Homo sapiens: one gene and its partners. The protein of the gene in region 1 interacts with the protein of each later gene in a pairwise test. Each region holds a gene or a part of one and is shown in the gene's direction. Other genes may lie near its edges.

Region 1 (7,823 bases):
GAGCTCAGGTGATCCGCCTGCCTCAGCCTCCCAAAGTGTTGGGATTACAGGCGTGAGCCACTGCACCTGGCCCCATTTTTCTTTTTTTTTTTTAGTCAATGTCTCACTCTTGTCACCCAAGTTGGAGTGAACTGGTGCCATTATATAAAGCTTACTGCAGCCTCAGACTCTTACACTCAAGCAGTTCTCCCACCTCGGCCTCCCAAACAGCTGGTATTACAGGCATAAGCCACTGTGCCCCAACCTTACTAGCCATTTTTTAAATGCTGAAAAGCCACATGTGACTAGTGGCTACACCATTGGACAGCTCAGATACAGAACATTTCTATCATCTCAAAGTTCTATTGGACAGAATTGCTTTAAGGAATTATCCTCATTATAAAATGATAAGTATGCTAAAGCTCAAAAAAATTAACTCATTCAGACTTTCTGAGATTCCAAAACTTCATGTTGTTTAACACCAACCTTCTCTTGGTGCTTTCCAGCTTTTTCATGCCGGGGAATACATAAAAATGCTATTTGTATAGAGCACTCTGGGGTAAATGGATGTGACTAAAAGATCATCAGCCCCTAGTCTCCTGCTCTTGTCTCTACACACCCAGCTCAGGAATGAGGAGGATCAACAGCTCAGCACACTTACCTGATCATGCAGTTCTGCTGTACATTATAACAGTGATTCTCGAAGTGTGGTTCCAAGACTTGAAGCATCAGCATTACCTGGGAGCATGTTAGCAATATACATTCTCAGGTCCCATCCCCATCACCATCCCAGACCTACCGAATCAGAAATTCTGGGAGTAGAGTTAAGCAGTTTGTAGTTTAACAAGCCCTCCAGGTGATTCTGATACACATAAAAGCTTATTCAGTGAATAGTGCTAGGAAAATTGGTTGTCCATTATGGGACAATACAGACACACAATGAAACAATGTATAATATATATATTAAATGCCTGGAAAATCGATAACAAAAATTGTATCCTAAATACTACCTTTTGTACCCCTCTTCAGAGATGTTGCTAAGTGAATCAGTTAATTTTTACATATTTTATATCGAACTAATGTACATTTTGTAGGTTTTCTCAGTTTAATTTTATGTTCCAACGCCCCTCAACAAGTGAACACCCTTCTTTTCTTCAGCTTTGTTGTAATATTTAGATATGGTTATTAATTCACTAATAGTAGAATTAGTAAGTTAAGCAAAAGCTTCAGTACCAAGACACAAAATCACTATATATTTGCCTTGTGGTTCTTAACTTTCTAAAGGTCATTGACTCCTTGCAGCATGTGTTACTAGAAATGGATATTCTGGCTGGACACATTGGCTTACGCCTATAATCCCAACACTTGCAAGGCCGAGGCGAGTGGATCAGTTGAGGTCAGGAGTTTGAGACCAGCCTGGCCAACATGGTGAAACCCTGTCTCTACTAAAAATACAAAAATTAGCCGGGCGTGGTGGCACGTGCCTGTAGTCCCAGCTACTCGGGAGGCTGAGGCAGAAGAATCACTTGAACCCAGAAGGCAGAGGTTGCAGTGAGCTGAGATTGCACCACTGCACTCCAGCCTGGGCAACAGAGTGAGACTCTGTCTCAAAAAAAAAAGAAAAAAAGAAGTGGATATTCTCACCAGAAAAATGAACCTATATCTAATATTTTGAATGAAATTTCAGAATACCTTGATTTAATTGTAATGGGATAAAGATTTAGTTAGAAGTTCATGTTTTGTAGGATATTGCATATTTCTAGTTTGATTGCTTGCTTTTTTAAAAAATTAACTTGTTCCTTTTTTCTCCTACTTGTAACTCTAAGGTGGATACATTGCAAATAGCCTAGCAATCATGACAGATGCACTTCATATGTTAACTGACCTAAGCGCCATCATACTCACCCTGCTTGCTTTGTGGCTATCATCAAAATCACCAACCAAAAGATTCACCTTTGGATTTCATCGCTTAGGTAGGTAGTTGGTGTTTCTTTTGCTTTATAATATTTTATAGTAAAACCACAATGAACTATAACCCTGATTAACTGAACTCGTTCCAGTGATATCTTGTTTGAACAAAGCAAATGAAAATAGATAAACAAAATTTATTCAGAAACATCTTTTCCAGGGTACATTTAGCCTAGTCAGCTAAACAGTTTACACATATAAAATTATATGATGATCATTAATCTTCAAAGGTTGCTCCCTATGTCCTGAAGATATCATCAGAAAAAAGTTTACTTTCAGTTTATTGAACAAAGCAAAACCACATGGGTTTAACCCGTTAATGAGCATTAGCTTCTCTCTTTTACTTCAGGTATTTCAGCCAAAGCTACCATAGCTTAGATTTTAAGCAGAGCTATCACAGGTATAATGTATGCTGTGTGGCTGAACTTGACTGCAGCCATCGTATCAACATAATTCTGCAAATGCACACATTTTTATTTGCCTGTTTTGAACAAATTTTAATGTTTAATTATAAAGAGTTAAAATCATACATTGCTATCTACACAGCTCTGCTTCTTACTGTATTACTGTTTTTAAATTTTTTGCTTATTTTGAAAATATGTATAAAATAATTACCTGAACTATTATATGAAGTAACATTTACCCAGATGTCAGACTCAAAAGTAGAACCCAAAAGTTGACATTTAAGTAGCTTCAGCAAAACTTGCCTCAAAGAACTAGAGTTAATATCTGATAATTTCATTTTGTAGGAACACTGATGCTCCTGGCTAATATATCAATCAATTCCTCATCATCTTTTTTATTTTTTAGCCTAAAAAAACTTAGACTGTAGATTTTTTGTTTGTTTCTTTACCTATATTTTCTTTGTATTTGTTTTTTGTTTTTTGCTTTTAAGACAGAGTCTTGCTCTGTTGCCCAGGCTGGAGTGCAGTAAACTTTTTGTTTCTTTACGTACATTTTCTTTGAATTTATTTCTCGTTTTTGCTTTTAAGACAGAGTCTTATTCTGTTGCCCAGGCTGGAGTGCAGTGGTGTGATCTTCTTGCACTGTTGCCCAGGCTGGAGTGCAGTGGTGTGATCTTCTTGCGCTGTTGCCCAGGCTGGAGTGCAGTGGTGTGATCTCAGCTCACTACAACCTCCACCTTCCAGGCTCAAGTGATCCTTCCACCTCAGCCTCCCGAGTAGCTGGGACTATAGGCGTGCACTAGCATGCTCAGCTAATTTTTGTGATTTTTGTAGAGACAGGGCCTACCTACAAGGGGGTCATCCTTTGCCCAGGCTGATGTCAAACTCCTGTGCTCAAGCCATCCTCCTACCTTGGCCTCCCAGAGTGCTGGGATTACAGGTGTGAGCTGCCATGACTGGCCCACAGCATCCAGGACCTCTTACTTAGTGACTGGGTCTTCTGGTGCAAAACTTGACACTGTACCTAAATGGTGATATTCCAAGTAGCTATCCAGGTCATCAGGTTGGAAAATTATCTAGCATCCCCACCCCTCCGTACTCTCAGCTACTGTACAAAAGAGCTAAAGCCCCAAGTGAAGTTTTTCTTTTGTTAAGCTACTGCATAATGCATGTGAATGTGTTCCTGGCCAGGCACGGTGGCTCACGTCTGTAATCCCAGCACTTTGGGAGGCCGAGGTGGGCGGATCACCTGAGATCAGGAGTTCAAGACCAGCCTAGCCAACATGGTGAAACCCCATATCTACTAAAAATACAGAAATTAGCTGGGCATGGTGGTGCACGCCTGTAATCCCAGCTACTCAGGAAGCTGAGGCAGAAGAACTGCTTGAACCCGGGAGGCGGAGGTTGTAGTGAGCCTAGATCATGCTGCTGCACTCCATTCTGGGCGGCAGAGTAAGACTCTTGTCTCTCTCAAAAAAAAAAAAAAAAAAGAATGTGTTCCTAAAGGAAACTCCACTGCTTCTCAACATATTATATAGTCATTTGTTTACTGGTTGCCTTAGGATTTTTAAACAGCTTCAAAATTATTTTTAAACATTAATTTTTTTGAGATTTAAACACCTGCAGTTAAGATCTAAGATGTAAACATATCATCATGGAATGGGAATTTTTTTAACACTGCTTGAGAGAGTACATTTATATAGTCCTGTGGTTCTTAAACTCTTTTAGGTTATAAACCCTTTGGAATTCTGATGAAAGCAGTGAAACACTCCCTCAGAAACATGCAATAACAGAACACAGAAGATGCTACACATATAAGTTAAGAACCCATAATAATGAAACTTCTATTAAATATTAAAGAAGTACTTAGTGTTTGTTCTACATAGTCACTTTGCTTCTTCATAAATAAATACTATGTAAAAATAAGAGACAATAGAACTGACCGGTCCTATTGTGTCTCTGGAATTTTCTATAGAAAGTCAAATCTTTCCCTTTCCTTAAAAGTACTAAGTTCCAAGAAGGTAGACCAGACAGCACCATTTGATTCCTGTCTCTCTGAGAGTCCATTAAGATAAAAACATAGAGGTACCAAAACACCAAAGAGAATTACATGATTGGGTTACCAGTAAACACATTTCCAGAAATTTTTGGAAGTTGTAAAGTACATATGAGTGGGTTGAAGGAGAAAACAAGCCAAGAAGCAATGTGTAGAACATACTCTGAACTAGGAACTGGACCAGCCCAACAGATCTTAAGGCTTAGGGACAGAGATGAGCAGAAATGAGAATTGGGGCTGAAAACGGAAGATTAATTGAATAAGTGGGAAGCCGTTCCCAGTGGTCACTATGCCCCTACCTCCCTTCTTACTCCTACCTCTACTCAGGCAGCCTACACTTTCCGCCAAGTAAAACACCACATAGTTCTTCTAGAAAGAAACTGAACAAAATGTTCAGGGAAAACTAAGAATTAGTGTGGAAGTTGATGCTCCAAAATAAGTCTTACTTTTACCAGAATTCAGATTTCTACCACCTCATATCCTGATTCTCCACCTACTCATCCTAAAGGAATATAGTTATCCTCTGCCCTGCCCTACACCCCATATTAATAACCATTTTAGGCTGGACATGGTGGTTTATGCCTGCAATCCTAGCATTGTGGGAGGCTGAGGCAGAAGGATCCCTTGAACCCAGAAGTTCGAGACCAGCCTGGGCAACATAGGAAGACCCTGTCTCTACCAAAAAATATTATTTCAATTCATTTCTGGCTTATCCTTCCAGCATTTCCTTTTTACAAAGGATAGTTTCCCTATCCTTCTGCCCTAAGTATGAATAGACAACCAAGAATCTTCCAGCATGTGGGAAAAACCAGCACCATGAATTAAAATGACCAAAACTAAACTAATAGAAAAATTAACCCTAAAGGAAAGAGAAGTAACTTAAAGAACCAGGAGAAGCTGGGCATGGTGGCTCATGCCTGTAATCCTATCACTTTGGGAGGCCAAGGTGGGCGGATCACTTGAAGCCAGGAGTTTGAGACCAGCCTAGCCAACATGGTGAAACCCTGTTTCTACTAAAAATACAAAACCTAGCTGGGCATGGTGGTGCCCACCTGTAATACCAGCTGCATGGGAGGCTGAGACATGAGAATCACTTGAACTTGGGAGGTGGAGGTTGCAGTGAGCCAAGATCAAGCCACTGCACTCCAGCCTGGGCAACAGAGTGAGACAAAAAAAAAAAAAAGGAAAAAGAAAAGAACAGAACCAGGAGAAAAGTTTTTAAATTATCTTATTAATATGCTCAGAATAATAAAACAGTAAAATGTTTTGGAAAAATAAATACAAGAAATAGCTCTTTGAAATTAAAATTATTCCTGAAATTTATTATTTATTTATTTATTTATTTATTTATTTATTTATTTTTGAGACAGAGTCTCACTGTGTCACCCAGGCTGGAGTGCAATGGCGCGGTCTCGGCTTACTGCAACCTCCACTTCCCAGGTTCAAGTGATTCTCCTGCCTCAGCCTCCAGAGTAGCTGGGATTACAGGGGCCCGCCGCCACTCATGGCTAATTTTTGTATTTTTAGTAGAGACGGGATTTCACCATGTTGGCCAGGATGATCTGGATCTCCCGTCCTCGTGATCCACCCGCCTCGGCCTCCCAAAGTGCTGGGTTTATAGGCATGAGCCACCGCCCCCAGCCAAGCCTTACTATTAAGAACCTCAGAAAAATAGAACTTAAAAAATAAAAAGAAGTAACCACTTAATGCATATGGTATTTCTTTTTGAGGTGTTGAACATGTTCTGGAATTAGTAGTGATGATGGCTGCACAACCTTGTACATGTACTGAAAACCACTGAATTGTACACTTTAAAATGGTGAATTTTGTTACATGAATTTTATGTCAATTTTTAAAAGTCATCTAAAAAAATGAAAGGGAGGGAATTGTTAAAGATATAGATAGATAGGTATTTCCTGAGCTAAGAAGGTACTCAAGCTTCACACTGAAACTTTTGGGATCTTCTTTTTTTTGTTGTTTTGTATTCTGAAATATTATGAGGGGATATCTAGATATAGACCTTATTTCACTTATTCTGCTCTATGAAATAATGGTGGAAATTTGGAAGAAAAAACTTAGTTTGCTTGAGGAAGATTCAAAGATACATAGAATTTGATGAATAAAGCTGTAAACCAAAGCAGTTGGTGTCCCTGAGTTCCACAGTACCATTGCTTCAGAGTAATCTCTTGAAGTTCTATGGGGAGAGATATATTTACATTTGGACACACTTAAGTAGGGTAGCTCTTGTGATCTCTAATTCCAGACTTGGAGATTCAGGTCCTGAAAACTTCACAGAGGGAATCCCCACAAGAAGCTTGGTTTGTTACCATTCTTGTTGAATTTTGTTTTGTTTTGATGACATGGTGGGGTGGGACAGGGATGGGTTTTTTCTCTGTTGATTTATTTTGTAAATATGCAAAACATGTTGCAAAAGTCAAATTTTATTTTATTAATTTATTTATTTGAGAGTGGGTCTCACTCCGTTGTCCAGGCTGGAGTGCAGTGGCGTGATCTCAGCCCCCTGCATCCTTGACCTCCTAGGCTCAAGCAATCCTCCCACCTCAGCCTCTCGAGTAGCTGGGACTGGGACTGGGACCACAGGCATGCACCACCATGCCTGGCTAACTTTTGTATTTTTTGTAGAGACGAGGCTTTGTTTCCCAGGCTGGTTGCAAACTCTGCAGCCTGTTTCCCAGGCTGGTTTTGAACTCTTGAGATCAAGTGATCCACCCGCCTCGGCCTCCCAAAGTGCTGGGATTACAGAGATAAGCCATCATGCCTGGCCAAAAATTATTTTTTAAAAGAAAACACAGAGAAGTCTTGCTTTCATTCCCCTCCACTCCATCTCCCCATACCATTCCATAAGAGTAGACCCTTTTAATTGGTTTCTAGCCTATCCTTCCAGCACTTCCTTTTGAAAACATAAGCAAATACATATATATGTTCATATCCTGCTTCTCACCACCCTTTTTTATGCAATAGGCAGTATACTGTATACTCAACTCTAGACCTGGAGGCAGTGATTCTATATAGAGTTCCACCTCCAGATCACTTTATAACAGTACATAGAAGCTTCTGGTTTGAAAATGTCAGAGCTTAAAGGAGGAGAACAACCACTTAACTATTCAGATAGAAGTAATATTCCCTTGCTCCTTTTGAATAAAAATTGAAAACAGGATATTGTCTTGGGATTCTGCATGAGGAAGCAGAAAATTAGATTTCCTGGGAATTTCTTCTACACTGAAGAATGAAATTTTACACTCTATCTGACAATAGTAAATATCAAACCATAGCTTAGCTGTAATTGCCATTTTAGTTGTTATATGGATGTGTTTCTGCTTTAAAAGATCACATTCTCTGTAGGCTTTAGATTGGTTTATATTTATTTATGGACTATTGATTGTAGCCTTTTTTTT
Region 2 (7,411 bases), on another chromosome or scaffold:
GTATTTTATTATTAGCTAATAGCTTACGGATAAATTAATATTATTCTCCCAGATAGCAGACTAATCCAAGAAACAAGGCCGGGCGTGGTGGCTCAGCACTTTCTGTAATCTCAGCACTTTCGGAGGCCAAGGCGGATGGATCACCTGAGGTCAGGAGTTCGAAACCAGCCTGGCCAACATGGCACAACCCCGTATCTACTAAAAATACAAAAATTAGCCAGGCATGGTGGTGGGCGCCTGTAATCCCAGCTACTCAGGAGGCTGAGGCATGAGAATGGCTTGAACCCGGGAGGCAGAGGTTGCAGTCAGCCGAGATCACGCCACCGCACTCCAGTCTGGGTGACAGAGCAAGACTCCGTCTAAAAAAAAAAAGGAAACAGAGAAATGGAATAATCATTTTGTGATTATACAGTAGTAACTTCTCCAGAATGAAGGGGGAATTTAAATTTCAGAGTTCTGAGTTACCCTACGGGTATCTTAATCACAGGGAAAGCCATTCCCTGACATTTTTGGAGCCTCAAGAAGTAGCAAACTCATGTTTGGAGTAAACCATGTCATTTGCAGAATCACTACTAGTTTTCCCCACCTTTTCCAGCCATAGAGTAAGGTTTATGTGAATTGTCCCAATGGGATTGTGCTGGGCACCCCTTCTAAAAAGTAGTCACCCAAAGCTGTCAAAAAAAAGATATATGGGTACTATGATCAGCCAAAGTCCCCAAATCATGTTGATTCCATGGAGAATGTCATCCAAAAGGTTTTTGTGTTATATGGTCCAAGCTCTACATGCTGATCATCTGTTTTTTCTGCATATGAAAAATAAAGGACTCTATTTGGTATCTGTCCTGGGCAAGTAATTCATTACAGGCTTCTGAATTCACTTATTAGCTTTGCTGGAAATAGAGATAAAATGAATTTTTTTATATAGCATCAGTGGCACAACAGCAACAGAACTGGTTTCTGGGCAACTGTGACAAGTTCCTGGGAAGGTGGTGGAAGAGGGTGGGAAGGGCGAATGTCACACTTTGTTCAGGTAGCTTTATGAATGTTGTTTACCGGATCTGAACTTGGCCTGGCCTTAAGGGCCAAAAAATGGCACAGTTATCTTATGCAATTATTTAAGACTGATCTTGTCCTCGTCTGATTAAGAGCAGCCACCGATTCCTTTGCAGTGTGACTTGCCGGCATGTAAGTGGTGGTAGATACAGGCTTAGTCAAGGACAGAGAAGTGAATGTCTTAATCCTTAGTCAAAGTCTACCTGCCGTTGACACTTTAATCCATATTTCTCATGTAGGAGAGATACAGGGATAATCCTACACCAATTAGGAATTATTACTAAAAAGACAATATCCTTCCTAGAACCTGTGTTTACTCTGCCTAACCTAAGAAATCTTATTTAATGAAACTTGTATGTTTATTTGTTCTTTGATGAACGTTTATTATCTCCTATGTTTAAGTTCTGTGGCAGGCATTTCTATATATTACTACATGAACAAGACATAGTCCCTGCCCTTGTGGGGTCTGTAGTCTCATAGAGAGACAGATATTAAACACATTAATTATCACAAGAATAAATATAGACCTACAAACTGTGACACATGCTATCAAGAAAAAGTATGTGGCCATACAAGTGACGAGTGGACCCAAGTGAGGTAAAAGAGAAGGGCTCTTTGGTAAGCTGAAAACTAAAGAACTGTTGCCTTATCTATGATAAAATAAATTCCTTTTTTAGATGAGAAGCCAGTTTACATTTACATTAGCCTAGAACTTAATTTTACATATAAATACAACACATCATAGATTTTACAGTTTTAATATATGATAAATTTTCTAGGAAAGCAACTACAGTGAAAATCAAAGGAAGATTATCCTTTTTTAAAGAAGTTTTTGTTAGAAACATTACTAAAACTTGTTCAACATTTCAAAAACTTACATCCTTGATGATAGCACCACTCGTTTTTTTTGAAACACTATTACATACCTTCAGTCTGAATGTCAAGCTGTGGTATTTGTATGGATATGAACATACCTTTTAGCCCATATTTTACAATGTTGAATACAATGTTTAAATGTCAACAACATTTAATTGAAATCTGGAATTGGGTTTTATGAGATCAACCACAAATCAATACTTGTGAACATTCCACTCTACCAACACGTTTTTCTTTGTGTGTTTTGCATGTGAATTCTTTAACGTGTGTTGAATGCAGCCTATTTTTCAAGCTAATCAGAAAATAATTAGTGAGTTCTTTGTTGTTGTTTTTTTTTTCACTCTCCCATTCTATTTGAGAAATTCACTTCTTTTCTGATGCATCTCTCAGAAAATATTTGTTGTTCTGACTGATTTGGGTTTAAGGACCAAGCCCTACCTGCACATAGACCTGGAGGTGTTGTGGAGGGAAGATCTTATTATGTCTGTGCTTTTGGTTTGAAAAAGCAGGAGGTCTGTAGGGCTTCATTCATGCAGTTTTGACAGTCCCCTTCTGCTTCCCAGAGAATTCAGAGACTTCTCCCAAGTGCAAGCTTTATTAAGGCTTAGGAGCTTTATTACAAAATGCTGCTTCACTCATAACCATTCACAATTGCTGTGGTGCTTCTGTTGTTGCAAGGATTTCCACTGTACTGACTTCCTAATTTGGGGTTATGTAAAAGGTTTTCAGAAAATGTCTGTGCTCTCTGATCCTGCTTGGAATTCACAGATGCAAAAACTAAATATTGAATCTGTTAATGGAAAATACTCAGGCTTTATAATGAGGCAGACCTAAATTTGAATCCCAGCTCTTGCTCAAGTTAACAAACTTTGAGCCTCAGTTTCTCAACTCCAAAATGGAAATAATAATACTTGCCAGAAATAATGAATGCAGACTGCCTAGTGTAGTGCCTGGCACAGAGCATTACTCAGCAGATGGAAAGTTATTATTAATATCATTTTGGTTCCTAAATCGCCATATTGGTTTATGTATTCATACCATATCTGTCCCCAGAATATTTAAGACCACCAAGTTCACTGAGTTACAGGGATGTTAATAAGGTTATGGATGAATTTTTACAAACCTGTCTCAATCCTTTTAATGGACTTCATTCATCTATATCTGTCCACTGAGGGATTGAAACCAAGTCTGTCTCATTCGCAGTAGAATCCCCAGCACCTAGCACAATGCCTAGTGATACTCAAATAATTGTTTATTGAGTCAATGAACCTAATCTTACTTTTTCCCATTCCCTTTTAGAGGCCGCAAGAGGAGAAATATCCTGTGGGACCATGGCTGTTGGCACTGTTTGTTTTTGTTGTCTGTGGCTCAGGTATGGGTGTTTCACTGAACTTATATCCCATGTTCTCCACTGGCCTTTGAAAAACACACGTTTTCTTCACAAAGCAAATAGATGAAAAACATACTGGTATGGGATTCAAGTTTATCACTGCCTTAAGCCTTAATCTTAATGGGTTTTGATTTAGTTTCTATTCCAAATATAGGTAGAGACACAATTAATACACTATCAAATCCTAATCATAAAATGATTACACTGAGTAGTTAAAGTGGCTGTATACACTGTAGAGTTCAGTAAAGTCTTTTTGTGCAGACATAGCCTTAAAAGGGCATTAGAACAGAAGGTGAAACACCTGTGTGCCTGTGATAAATCCACATTCCGAGAAAGGGAGAGGCCTTATGCCTTATGAGAAAGTTCTGCAGAGCTCCTAGATACAACTTCCTAGATACAACTGAGCCTTTGACCCAAGCCTTAAGGTATGGGTCACCTGATACTGTAAGGTGGCAAGTTGAGAGCTTTACTTACACACATGCAGATACACACATACACACAAATGCAGGGAAGATGAGCAGAAGCATCGTGCCATTGTTTCTAGTTACATGCTGAACTAGCCTTGACATGGTTCCTGATCCCCATATGTTGGGTCTCAGAAATCCTTGTGAGTGGAGGTCACTTCTTCTAACTACACAGCATGCCTTGAGGGATTCCCACCCTCCAGCATCTCACTGTTACTGAGGGCAGGGAGGCAGAAGGTCCACATCTTCCTGCTCAGGCTTAGGCCTCCCAGCAAGACAGCCTCTGCCCCAATGACAAGAGAAGCCCATGACTAAAGATGAATCATGCATTCAAACCTAAAATCATGAAAATTAAAAAAAAAATTTAAGATGGATCAGTTCCTTTTATCTTCAAGAGACCACTCTTCCAAAGAAGCAAAAACTCTTAGGAGGAAGGAAGGATCCAAAGTACTTGGCATTATTGTTGCTTGTGGCTCAAATATTTTAAAGATGATTTGGCATTCCAAGATGAGAAAATCTTACACTCAAAGAAAGACAGTTCTACTCTATTCCCAAAGAAGTATCTTTAAGGACATCTTTTAAACAGCTGTTTACCCAATCCCTATTTGAATACTTCTTCAAAAAGCCTATTCCATGTCTGCTGGAATTCTATTAGAAATGTCTCTCCTGTTTTGAATTACACTATGCTGTCTTCTCAGTTGTTCAGATTTGAACTCCTAGGGTAACACAGAATGGACTCGTTCTCCTCTAAGCACCTTGAATCATCAGATATTTTAAAGATGACTGCCTGGTGGCTCCTTCTGCAAACTAAGCTTCCCTAAATCTCTCGACCTTGCCTCATAAGATGTGGTTTCTAGACTCCTCTTCTGGATCTGCTCAATGACTTTCTTAAAGGGTAGCATTTGGCAGCGCATGCCTGTAATCCCAGCTACTTGGGAGACTGAGGCAGGAGAATCACTTGAACCCAGAAGGCAGAGGTTGCCATGAGCCAGAGATCGCGCCATTGCACTCCAGCCTGGGCAACAAGAGTGAAACTCCGTCTCAAAAAAAAAAAAAAAAAAAAAAGCCAGGCGCAGTGGCTCACGCCTGTAATCCCAGCACTTTGGGAGGCCGAGGTGGGGAGGATCACAAGGTCTGGAGTTCGAGACCATCCTGGCCAACATGGTGAAACCCTGTCTCTACTAAAAATACAAAAAATGAGCTGGACATGGTGGCACGCGCCTGTAGTCCCAGCTACTCAGGAGGCTGAGGCAGGAGAATCACTTGAACTGCAGAGGTGGAGCTTGCAGTGAGCCGAGATCGTGCCACTGTACTCCTTCCTGGGCAACTGAGCGAGACTGCGTCTCAAAAAAAAAGTATAGCATTTGCAACTGCAGAAGGTGGTCTAGAAGCAGTGTGACCACCACAGAGGCAGTAGGATTGTCACTGCCCTTGATTTTGCTCACCACTCTGCCTCTATTAATGTGACCCAGGCTTGCAGTTACTTTTTAACAGTTGCAGCACATCCTTGACTCACGTCTAGCTGATGGCCAGCCAGATGCCACCCAGCTCTTCCTCAGATAAACTTCCTGCAACCCCGGAAACACATCTACATACCCCTTTATCCCAAGTCTCTCCTGTCTCCATCACATATTATTTTATTTTACTCATGACCCTCATCAGCAGTTGCAGTTATTTAGTTTACTTACTTAGGTTCATTTCCCTCCAGTAGGATATAAGCTCAGGGGAGACAGTGTTTATTTTTCATTAAATTTGTAGATCCTAGTTTAGTATTTAGCACATAGTTAGTGCTTAGGATGGATGGATGGATGGATGGATGGATGGATGGATGGATGGATGGATAAAGCCAGATATTCCTCATACTGTAGATATCTAGTTGACCTTTTTTGAGACCTAATATAAAACTTTATGACTTTTTTTTTTATTCTCAAAGAAGAACGATTACTTCTATTAAAATTTTAGGCTGGGCGCGGTGGCTCACGCCTGTAATCCCAGCATTTGGGAGGCCGAGGCGGGCGGATCATGAGGTCAGGAGATAAGACCATCCTGGCTAACACGATGAAGCCCCGTCTCTACTAAAAATACAAAAAAATTAGCCGGACCTGGTGGCAGGTGCCTGTAGTCCCAGCTACTTAGGAGGCTGAGGCAGGAGAATGGCGTGAACCAGGGAGGTGGAGCTTGCAGTGAGCCGAGATTGTGCCACTGCACTCCAGCCTGGGCGACAGAGCGAGACTCCGTCTCAAAAAAAAAAAAAAAAAAAAAAGAACAAAATAAAAACAAACAAAACTATGCCTTTATCATACCACAGGAAAATCAAGAAAATAAACCTGTACAAAAAAGTTAGCTATGTTTTCAGGCTGTATGACCAGTCTGTAGATTGTCAGACCTTGAACTTTAAGCCTCTGATCTACTTACCCTTTTTTCCCAGTGTTATGGTCCCTGAAAATATATTATTCTTCCAAGTCACTGATAAAAGTCTAGACTTGGAGAAACCCACAGAACACAATCAGAGACAACCTCTTTCAGGTTGACTTTGAGCCTCTAAGCAAAACTCATTCAAGCAATCATCATGTCTTGAGGGTCCCCTCTGTGCCTGGCACTGTGCCGGGCTTTGGAAATACAATCCTGTTTGGGTACTTGCAGGCATTGGGAGAGGCAGATAAGGAAGCTGTCAGTTGCAGCCCAGGGAAAGCGCACTGCGATAGTGACAGCAGAGTTTACAGGGTGCTTGGCTGGCATGGATAAGGAACTTCTAAATCATACTCAGCAGAAGAGAAAGTTTCCAAGGGGAGGTGCTGTTTGAGCGGAGTCTTGAAGAACAAACAGCCAGACAAAGGGTGTGAGGAAGGTGATTCTGCATGGGAACACTATGTGGCGGTGGCATGGTGGCTTCAGAGAATGTGCTGGGCTCAAGAATATAAGGTGCTCAGAATGGCCAAAGCCTACTCTCAGGCATCCCTGAGCCCCGTGACCATGCCACCTGTATTGTCAAGGGTCTAAGTAGATAAAGATATATATAGGCTTCAAGATACACAGTAACTGTGGCCTTCTCCAGTCTGCCCCCTTAGGCAGCCTATAAGGGAAAAAGCCAGTAGAGTCATTTGGCGTGGCTTATTTTTCTCAAACCCATGCCAACTCTCAAAACCCATCTCTTCCTTTTTGGAGGGTTTAAAAAACTATTATATGGCCTAAACTTTTGCCTGGCTTACCAGCCCATGCAGCAGGACCTGTATCTTTCCCTCTTGGGTAAATTGGGACATTTGCTAACAAGCATCTTTTAGAACTCTCCTGGTCTCCAGCAGTTTCCTAGGGATTGAGTATGTTAGCTCCACCTCTCTGGAGGTTTGCGTTTTTTTTGTTTTTTTTTTTTTGAGACAGAGTCTCGTTCTATTGACAGGCTGGAGTGCAGTGGCGCAATCTCGGCCCACGGCAACCTCCACCTCCCAGGTTCAAGCGATTCTCCTGCCTCAGCCTCCTGAGTAGCTGGAACTGCAAGCACGCACCACCATGCCCAGCTAATTTTTTTTTTTTTTTTTTAGTAGTGACGGGGTTTCACCATGTTGGCCAGAATGGTCTTGATCTCTTGACCTCATGATCCGCCCACCTTGGCCTCCCAAAGTGCTGGGAT
Region 3 (7,411 bases), on another chromosome or scaffold:
CAGCGATGGCACTGCAGGGCCACAGCCTGGTTTACCTGCCATGCTTCCAGTTGTCCTTCTGGTAGGCGCCTGGCCCGGGTTGTAGTTTGAAGAGTGAGCAGGAAATGTCTCCATCCAGGTGGCTGCAGATGGCTACTCACCCAGGCTGTACTGAGAGGCCACAGTCCCAGTTCTGGTCCTCTGTCGTGTATCCAGGAGTGGCAGGGCAGTGAGGCTCTAGCTTCTAGGTCAGGGATGGGGACAGTGGGGACAGTGCCATGCCCCGAGCCTCTGCCGTTGGGCAGCTGGTATCCTGCTTCCAGCCAGAGAATGCACATCTTCATGTAGTGGATTTCCTAACAACCCGGGGAGATGAAGGTAGGTTGTTTTTCCTGTTTTACAAGTGGTAAAATGAGATTCAGGGCTAGAGTTCTCTGAGCAGCTGCTTCTCTGATCTCTGTCCTGCCCTTGGCCTCTGGGAGCTCTTATGGTTCCTCAGCAGAGTTCACAGGGCTCTTGGAGCCTGTCCTTCGGCCTTGAGCTGAGGCCACAACTGCGCGCACTTCATAGGCTTGAGGGGAAAGTGATTCATCCAGGAAGTAAACAGTGAGCCCTTTACTCTGAGAACACCTGTGCCTGGAGTCCGCCGGAGTTTGGGAGGACAAATGAACCCCATGTGAATCCTGTTCCCTGGAGCCCGCAGTGTGGTGGGAGAGGTGACCCAGGGATTATATAACTAATAGGAGGTAGCATGAAGGAGGCCTGAGATCTCACTACCCTTGCCTCCCCCTCCTCCAGAGAGGCTGTGCTGGAGAGAGGCCATGCTGTTGCAGGGCCATAGGATGTGGTACTGTTGGCCTGGAAGATGTGGTTTGATTACAGTCACCATTGAGGGTCAGGGAGGGGAGCGAAGCTCTCCTTTAGATGCCCCCCCACCCGATTTTTTTTTTTTTTTTTTTAGCTGGGCCTGAGAATTTGATTCACCTAAGAGAGGTCCACAGGAGACAAGCACACACATTTATTTAATTCAAGTTTTACCTGGCATGGAAGAACCTGTGAGAGTCAGTTACTTATTTACTGAATTAGACCAAGTAACTCATGAAGAAGCAAGTAACTATGTGAGGAGCTAAAAAGATGAGAGTGGATCCATTCTAACATGGTCTGCACAGTACCCTCTTGGCCTCGACTTCTCATCCTTAAAAATAAGGAAATTGTCAGCTGGGTGCGGTGGCTCACGCCTGTAATCCCAGCACTTCGGGAGGTCAAGGCAGGTGGATCACGAGGTCAGGAGATCGAGACCATCCTGGCTAACACAGTGAAACCCCGTCTCTACTGAAAATACAAAACAATTAGCGGAGTGTGGTGGCGGGTGCCTGTAGTCCCAGCTACTGGAGAGGCTGAGGCAGGAGAATGGTGAGAACCTGGGAAGCAGAGCTTTCAGAAAAAAAAAAAAAGGAGATTGTCCTATGTTTCCCTGGGGACTTTCATCTCCTGCTTTTAGGAAACACAAAAGAGGTCAAAGGATCTTCTTGCACCTGTTGTTTTTCAATAGCCTTTAATTCATAATAGTCAATTGACCAGGGTGGGCAGGGTGCGATGGCTCACACCTGTAGTCCTGCCAAGACAGGCAGATCACTTGAGCCCAGGAGTTCAAGACCAGCCAGGGCAACATAGCAAAACCCGGTCACAACAACAACAACAAAAAACCAAACAAACAGAAAAACAGAAAAACACAGAAAATTATGTCGTGTGAAGGAATCCACACAGAATGCTTACCATCTGATTCCATTTCTCATTAAAATTCGACCAATCTATTCTGACAAAAAGCAGAATTATTGCTGGGGACATAGGAGCAAAGCGGAAGAGAGGATTACATTGAAGAATGAAGAAATTCTGGGGTGTGGTGGACATGTCATTTTCTTATCGTGGTGGTAGTTCCACAATGTATACACACGTCTCAATCTACCAAACTACATGCTTCAAAAATGTACACTTTGTTTCATGCCCATTATACCTCAATGAATCCATTTTTAAAAAACCTTCAATAGAATGTAAACACTTGAGTGTATACTGTATTCCCTATAGCACTTGCACATAGATCATGGAAATAGGTATGCATAAAAAGTCAGTTTATCCAATTAAAATGGAATTCTAAAAGGTAATTAACATTAAAATGTGCAGGGGGAAAAGGAGTAAAAAAATTAGACTAGACAATCATAGCTTAAATGGTAAACTTACAGGTCTATTTCAACTATATCAATTATTGCACTCCCTGTAAATCCACTGAGCACTACAGTTCAATGGTAGAAATGTTTGGAAGGGCTGAGAAAGCAAGACTCAACTATATCTTGTCTATATGAGATGGGCCTTAAAAGGAAGACACAGATGTTGTCTGTTGAAAGTAAATAGATGGAAAAAGATACACCATGCAGAGTGTAAGGCCAAGAAAACTGCCATGGCTATCTCAGTATCAGATGAAGTTGATTTTGTTAGCGGTGGATGAGATCCGAGTTACCCTACGTTGAAGGCGGCGAATCCGTATGCGTCCACAGCACCTTCAGCTCTTCGCCTCCTGAGAAGAAAGAACTGGTTTGAGGGGCATAAGGCAGAAGCAGAGATGGAGGCAAGTTTCAGAGCAGGAGTGAAAGTTTATTAAAAAGCTTTAGAACAGGAAGGAAAGGAAGGAACAGGAAGGAAAGGAAGGAACAGAAAGAAAAGAAGGAAAGTACACTTGGAAGATGGCCAAGCAGGTGACTTGAGAAACAGTACGCAGCCGGACCGCCTGAGTTGGGGTTTTATAGGTTGGCCTACTTCCAGGATCTTGCCTTACTTCTCCCCACTCCTGAAATCTTATTGGGAAGCTGCTGATCAGTTTCAAGTGTTTTCTATGTATTAGGAAACTGCTTTTTTCTGGCATCGGCTGTAACCAGTTATTACTTTAGAGACACAGTTATCAACTACCTGATGGTCGCCCAACACTGCTGGTGTCAGAAGCGGGGACCCCTCTCCTGTCCTGCTCATACCTAACTAGCTGCCTACTGTGACAATTTTAGGACATTGAATATTATGGGAGATGAAAAGGGACCTTTGTAGTTAAAAGGGTTAATTCTTCAAGGAGTATAATAACAACAAATTGTATATGCCTAGTAATACATCTTCAAAACACATGACACAAAAATAGAATTAAAAAGAGATTAACTCAGCTGTTTCTCTGCACTTGCTAGCATGATTAGATGAAAATGCCAGTAAAGTGGCAAGCGATCTGCACACTATCAACCACCTTGATTTAACTGACATTTAAAGAGCAGGAGTGGAACATTCACTGAACACTCATTCCTTTCTATGCTCATGATACTTTCACCAAGATAGACCAGGTTCTGGGCTATAAAACACACAATATGATCTCTAAACTTAATGAAACTAAACTGGAAATCAGTAACAATATCCACAGAGAATTCTAAAATTTTGATATTGAACAACACACTTCTAAAAATCTGTGGTTCAGACAGGAAATCAAAAGGGAAGGTAAGATATTTCAAAGTAAGTAATAATGACAATATAACACATCAAAAGTGGTGCGAAATAGCTAACAGTGCTCAGGGTGAAATATACAGCTTTCAATGTTTGTATTAAAAAACTGGGGGTTAGGGAGATGGGGAGTTACTGCTGAAGGGTATGTAGTTCCTTTCTGGAGTGATAAAAATATTCTAAAATTGATTATAGTGATGATTGCATAGCTATGAGTATATTAAAAACTGCTGAAGTGTGGACTTTAAATGGGTGAATTATATGAATAATCATAATTATTAATTATGTGAATTGTGTCTCACTAAAGCTGTCAAAAAAAGAAAAAACGTGAAAATTATGGGCCGGGCACGGTGGCTCACATCTGTAATTCCAGCACTTTGGGAGGCCGAGGAGGGTGGATCACGAGGTCAGAAAATCGAGACCATCCTGGCTAACACGGTGAAACCCTGTCTCTACTAAAAATACAAAAAATTAGCCAGGCGTGGTGGCGGGCACCTGTAGTCCCAGTTACTTGGGAGGCTGAGGCAGGAGAATAGCATGAACCTGGGAGGTGGAGCTTGCAGTGAGCCGAGATTGTGCCACTGCACTCCGGCCTGGGAGACAGCGAGACTCCATCTCAAAAAAAAAAAAGAAAAAGAAAAAGAAAATTATGGCCTGAGGAGCTACATTAATCAATCATAAAATATAAGTGTAAATTTAAACCAAACAAAGTAACAGGAAGGAGCATAAATCAAAGAATACAAACCACAGAAAGAACTGAGAAAACCAACTGTGTGCGGTGGCTTACGCCTGTAATCCCAGTACTTTGGGAGGCCCAGGCAGGCAGATCACTTGAGCTCAGGAGTTAAACCACTCTGGGCAACATGGCGAAACCCCAGCTCTACAAAATATGTGAAAATTAGATGGGCGTTGTGGCACACACCTGTCTTTGGGGACTGAGGTGGCAGGACCACTTGAGCCTGGGAGGCAGAGGAGGCAAAGGTTGTAGTGAACCGAGATTACACCACTGCACTCTGCGCTCCAACATGGAGGACAGAGGGAGACCCTGTCTCCAAAAAAAAAAAAAAAAAAAAAAAAAAGACAAAATGAAAAGTTGGTCTTCTGAAAGGATTTTAAAAAACACTAATAAACCCCTCATTAAATGAGAGGGAGTAAGAGTGTGAGAGCAGAGAAAGGAGACGCAGACATCGCCTGAACCTAGAGGGACTCCAACCCGGGAAAGAATGATTTGGGAAAAGTGGGTTAGCTTCACTGTCACCAACTGCTAGTCAGGCTTTGATGTGGAAGAAAGCTACATTTTGTCTTGTTTAGATCCAGGCAGTTGAACTGAGCCCAACATAAGCAGCTTTCATTGTAACCATTTTGGTTTTGCTTAAATTAATTTCCTACTTTAAAACACTCCCAACTTAAAGAAAAGTTACAAAAACTATACAATAAAAACATTTGAAAAAATGGCTGTTGGCATGATGAAAGCTATTATTGAATTCTTTAGTGTGTACTTTCTACAAACAAGGAAATTAACATCAACACATTACCACTATCTATCCGCACTCTATTCCGATTTCTCCAGTTGTCTTCTAGTTGTCATTTATAACATAGAGATCATGGCCAGAATCCCTGAATTGCTGTTTCATCTTTTTTGTCACTCTTTGATATTTAGTGGGAGCAGCTTGACAAGGTCCTTTGTAAAGCAGTAATTAATTACTTAATGTTTGATGCTATATCCTGACTTTCTGTAAGGTTATATATATTATAACCTTCATTTGTAAAGCTGAGTATGTTTAAGTGTGTGTCTGTGTGTATTTGTGTGTGTGTGAGTGAGAGACAGAATTCACCTATTGGTCAATTAAACACTTGGTGAAACTAAATATATTAAATGCTATTTCTGCATGAAGGGCTCATATGTGTGTGGTTTTTTAAAATTCTTATAAAATCTTTTCTTTCCAACCATGGTGGCATGTGCCTCTTATCCACATTTCTTGGGAGACTGAAGCAGGAGGATCACTTCAGGCCAGGAGTTCAAGCCTATAGTAAGATATGATCACACCTGTGAATAGCCACTGCATTCCAGCCTGGGCAACATAGCAAGACTCTGTATCAAAAAAACAAAATAGCTCTTCTTGCTCCCATTATCTGGGGTAAATTTATGTTATAATATGAGAAAAGGATACATAAGTGTTTTTCTTTTTCTTTTCATTTTTTCTTTTTTTTTTTTATTTGAGATGGAGTCTCGCACTGTCACCACATTGGAGTGCAATGGCGCGATCTTGGCTCACTGCAACCTCTGCCTCTCAGGTTCAAGCTATTCTCCTGCCTCAGCCTCCTGAGTAGCTGGGATTACAGGTGTGTGCCACCACACCCAGCTAATTTTTGTATTTTTAGTAGAGACAGGGTTTCACCGTGTTGGCCAGGATGGTCTCGATCTCTTGACCTTGTGATCCACCTGCCTCAGACTTCCACATTGCTGGGATTACAAGCTTGAGCCATCGCGCTTGCCTGTATTTTTTTTTTTTTTTATAGAAAATAGCTGGCCCTAACAGGCCAAGGGACAAACACAGGTATGAAAGAATGAAAGTTTGGAGCTGGAAAAAATGTCCAAGCTCTGATGGGTTTTGTCACTTGGGGTGAAGGGAATGTGAGATGGAGCCTGGGAGGGGTGAGGTCTGGAAGTCACTCACACCCATCACTCCTTTGTCCCCACAGGTCCTAGCTTACTCTGCCACCACTGCCCGGCAGGAGGAAGTTCCCCAGCAGACAGTGGCCCCACAGCAACAGAGGCACAGCTTCAAGGGGGAGGAGTGTCCAGCAGGTGCACTCTTATTTTTAAAAATCAGTTTATTTTTAATTGACAGATAAACATTGTATGTATTTATGATGTACACCATGATGTTTTGAAATATGTACGCATTGTGGAATGGCTAAATCAAGCTAATTCACATACTTAATCATGTATTCGTGGTAAGAACACTTAAAAATCTGCTCAGCAATTTTCAGCTGTATGGATACAGAGCCCTGGGATAAGCCCTCTTTGCCCTTTTTATCTGTGGGTTCTGTAGCCTTCCTTATCTATGGGTTCTGTATCCATGGTTGCAACAAACCACAGATCAAAAATATGCGGAAGAAATAAAAATGATAATACATCAATAAAAGCAGATAAAAAGCAATGCAGTATAGCACTTATTTACATAGCATGTCTATTGCATTAGGTATTACAAGTAATCTAGAGATGATTTAAAGCATATGTGCGTGGGTTTTATGCAATACTATCCCAATTTATATCAGGGACTTGAGTATATGCAGAGTTTGTTCCATGGAATATATTCCCTGTGGATAGAAGGCAGGACTGTACAACACATTGTTTTAATAACTGTAGTCGCCATGTCACACAATACATCTCTTGAATTTATTCTCCCTGTCTAACTGAAATTTTGTATCCTTTGACTAACATCTCCCCATCCCACCATCCAACTCAAGCCCTGGTAATCACCATTCTGCTCTCCACCTCTATGAGACCAACTTTTTCTGATTCCACATATGTGAGATCATGAGGTGTTTGCCTTTCTGTGCCTGGCTTATTTCACTTAGCATAGTATCCTCCAGCTTCATCCATGCTGACACAAATGACAGAACTCCCTTCTTTTTAAAGGCTGAATAGTATTCCATTGTATCTATGTGTCACATTTTCTTTAACTTTTCATCCATCCATGGACACGTAGGTTGATTCCATGTCTTGACCATTGTAAATAATGCTCCAATGCATATGGGAGGGAAGATATCTCTTCAATATACTGACGTCATTTCCTTTGGATGTATACCCAATAGTGGGATTGCTAGATCATATAGTTGTTCTATTTTTTGTTTTTTGAGGAACCTCCATACTGTTTTCCATAATGGCTGTACTAAT

The links.
Region 2: the proteins of SLC30A4 (region 1) and SERP2 interact in binary tests that used the Homo sapiens proteins (3 or more experiments, as listed by UniProt).
Region 3: the proteins of SLC30A4 (region 1) and TNFRSF10C interact in binary tests that used the Homo sapiens proteins (3 or more experiments, as listed by UniProt).

What each region holds. Positions count from the first base shown.
Region 1 is NC_000015.10:45,505,267-45,513,089, reverse strand, and holds part of SLC30A4 (probable proton-coupled zinc antiporter SLC30A4), read left to right. Parts: intron 1-1,805; coding exon 1,806-1,952; exon of another isoform or gene 1,953-1,954; intron 1,955-4,079; coding exon of another isoform or gene 4,080-4,141; exon of another isoform or gene 4,142-4,232; intron 4,233-7,823. UniProt on the Homo sapiens protein: Probable proton-coupled zinc ion antiporter mediating zinc import from cytoplasm potentially into the endocytic compartment. Controls zinc deposition in milk.
Region 2 is NC_000013.11:44,376,413-44,383,823, forward strand, and holds part of SERP2 (stress-associated endoplasmic reticulum protein 2), read left to right. Parts: intron 1-3,228; coding exon 3,229-3,301; intron 3,302-7,411. UniProt on the Homo sapiens protein: Interacts with target proteins during their translocation into the lumen of the endoplasmic reticulum. Protects unfolded target proteins against degradation during ER stress. May facilitate glycosylation of target proteins after termination of ER stress.
Region 3 is NC_000008.11:23,105,510-23,112,920, forward strand, and holds part of TNFRSF10C (tumor necrosis factor receptor superfamily member 10C precursor), read left to right. Parts: intron 1-6,210; coding exon 6,211-6,316; intron 6,317-7,411. UniProt on the Homo sapiens protein: Receptor for the cytotoxic ligand TRAIL. Lacks a cytoplasmic death domain and hence is not capable of inducing apoptosis. May protect cells against TRAIL mediated apoptosis by competing with TRAIL-R1 and R2 for binding to the ligand.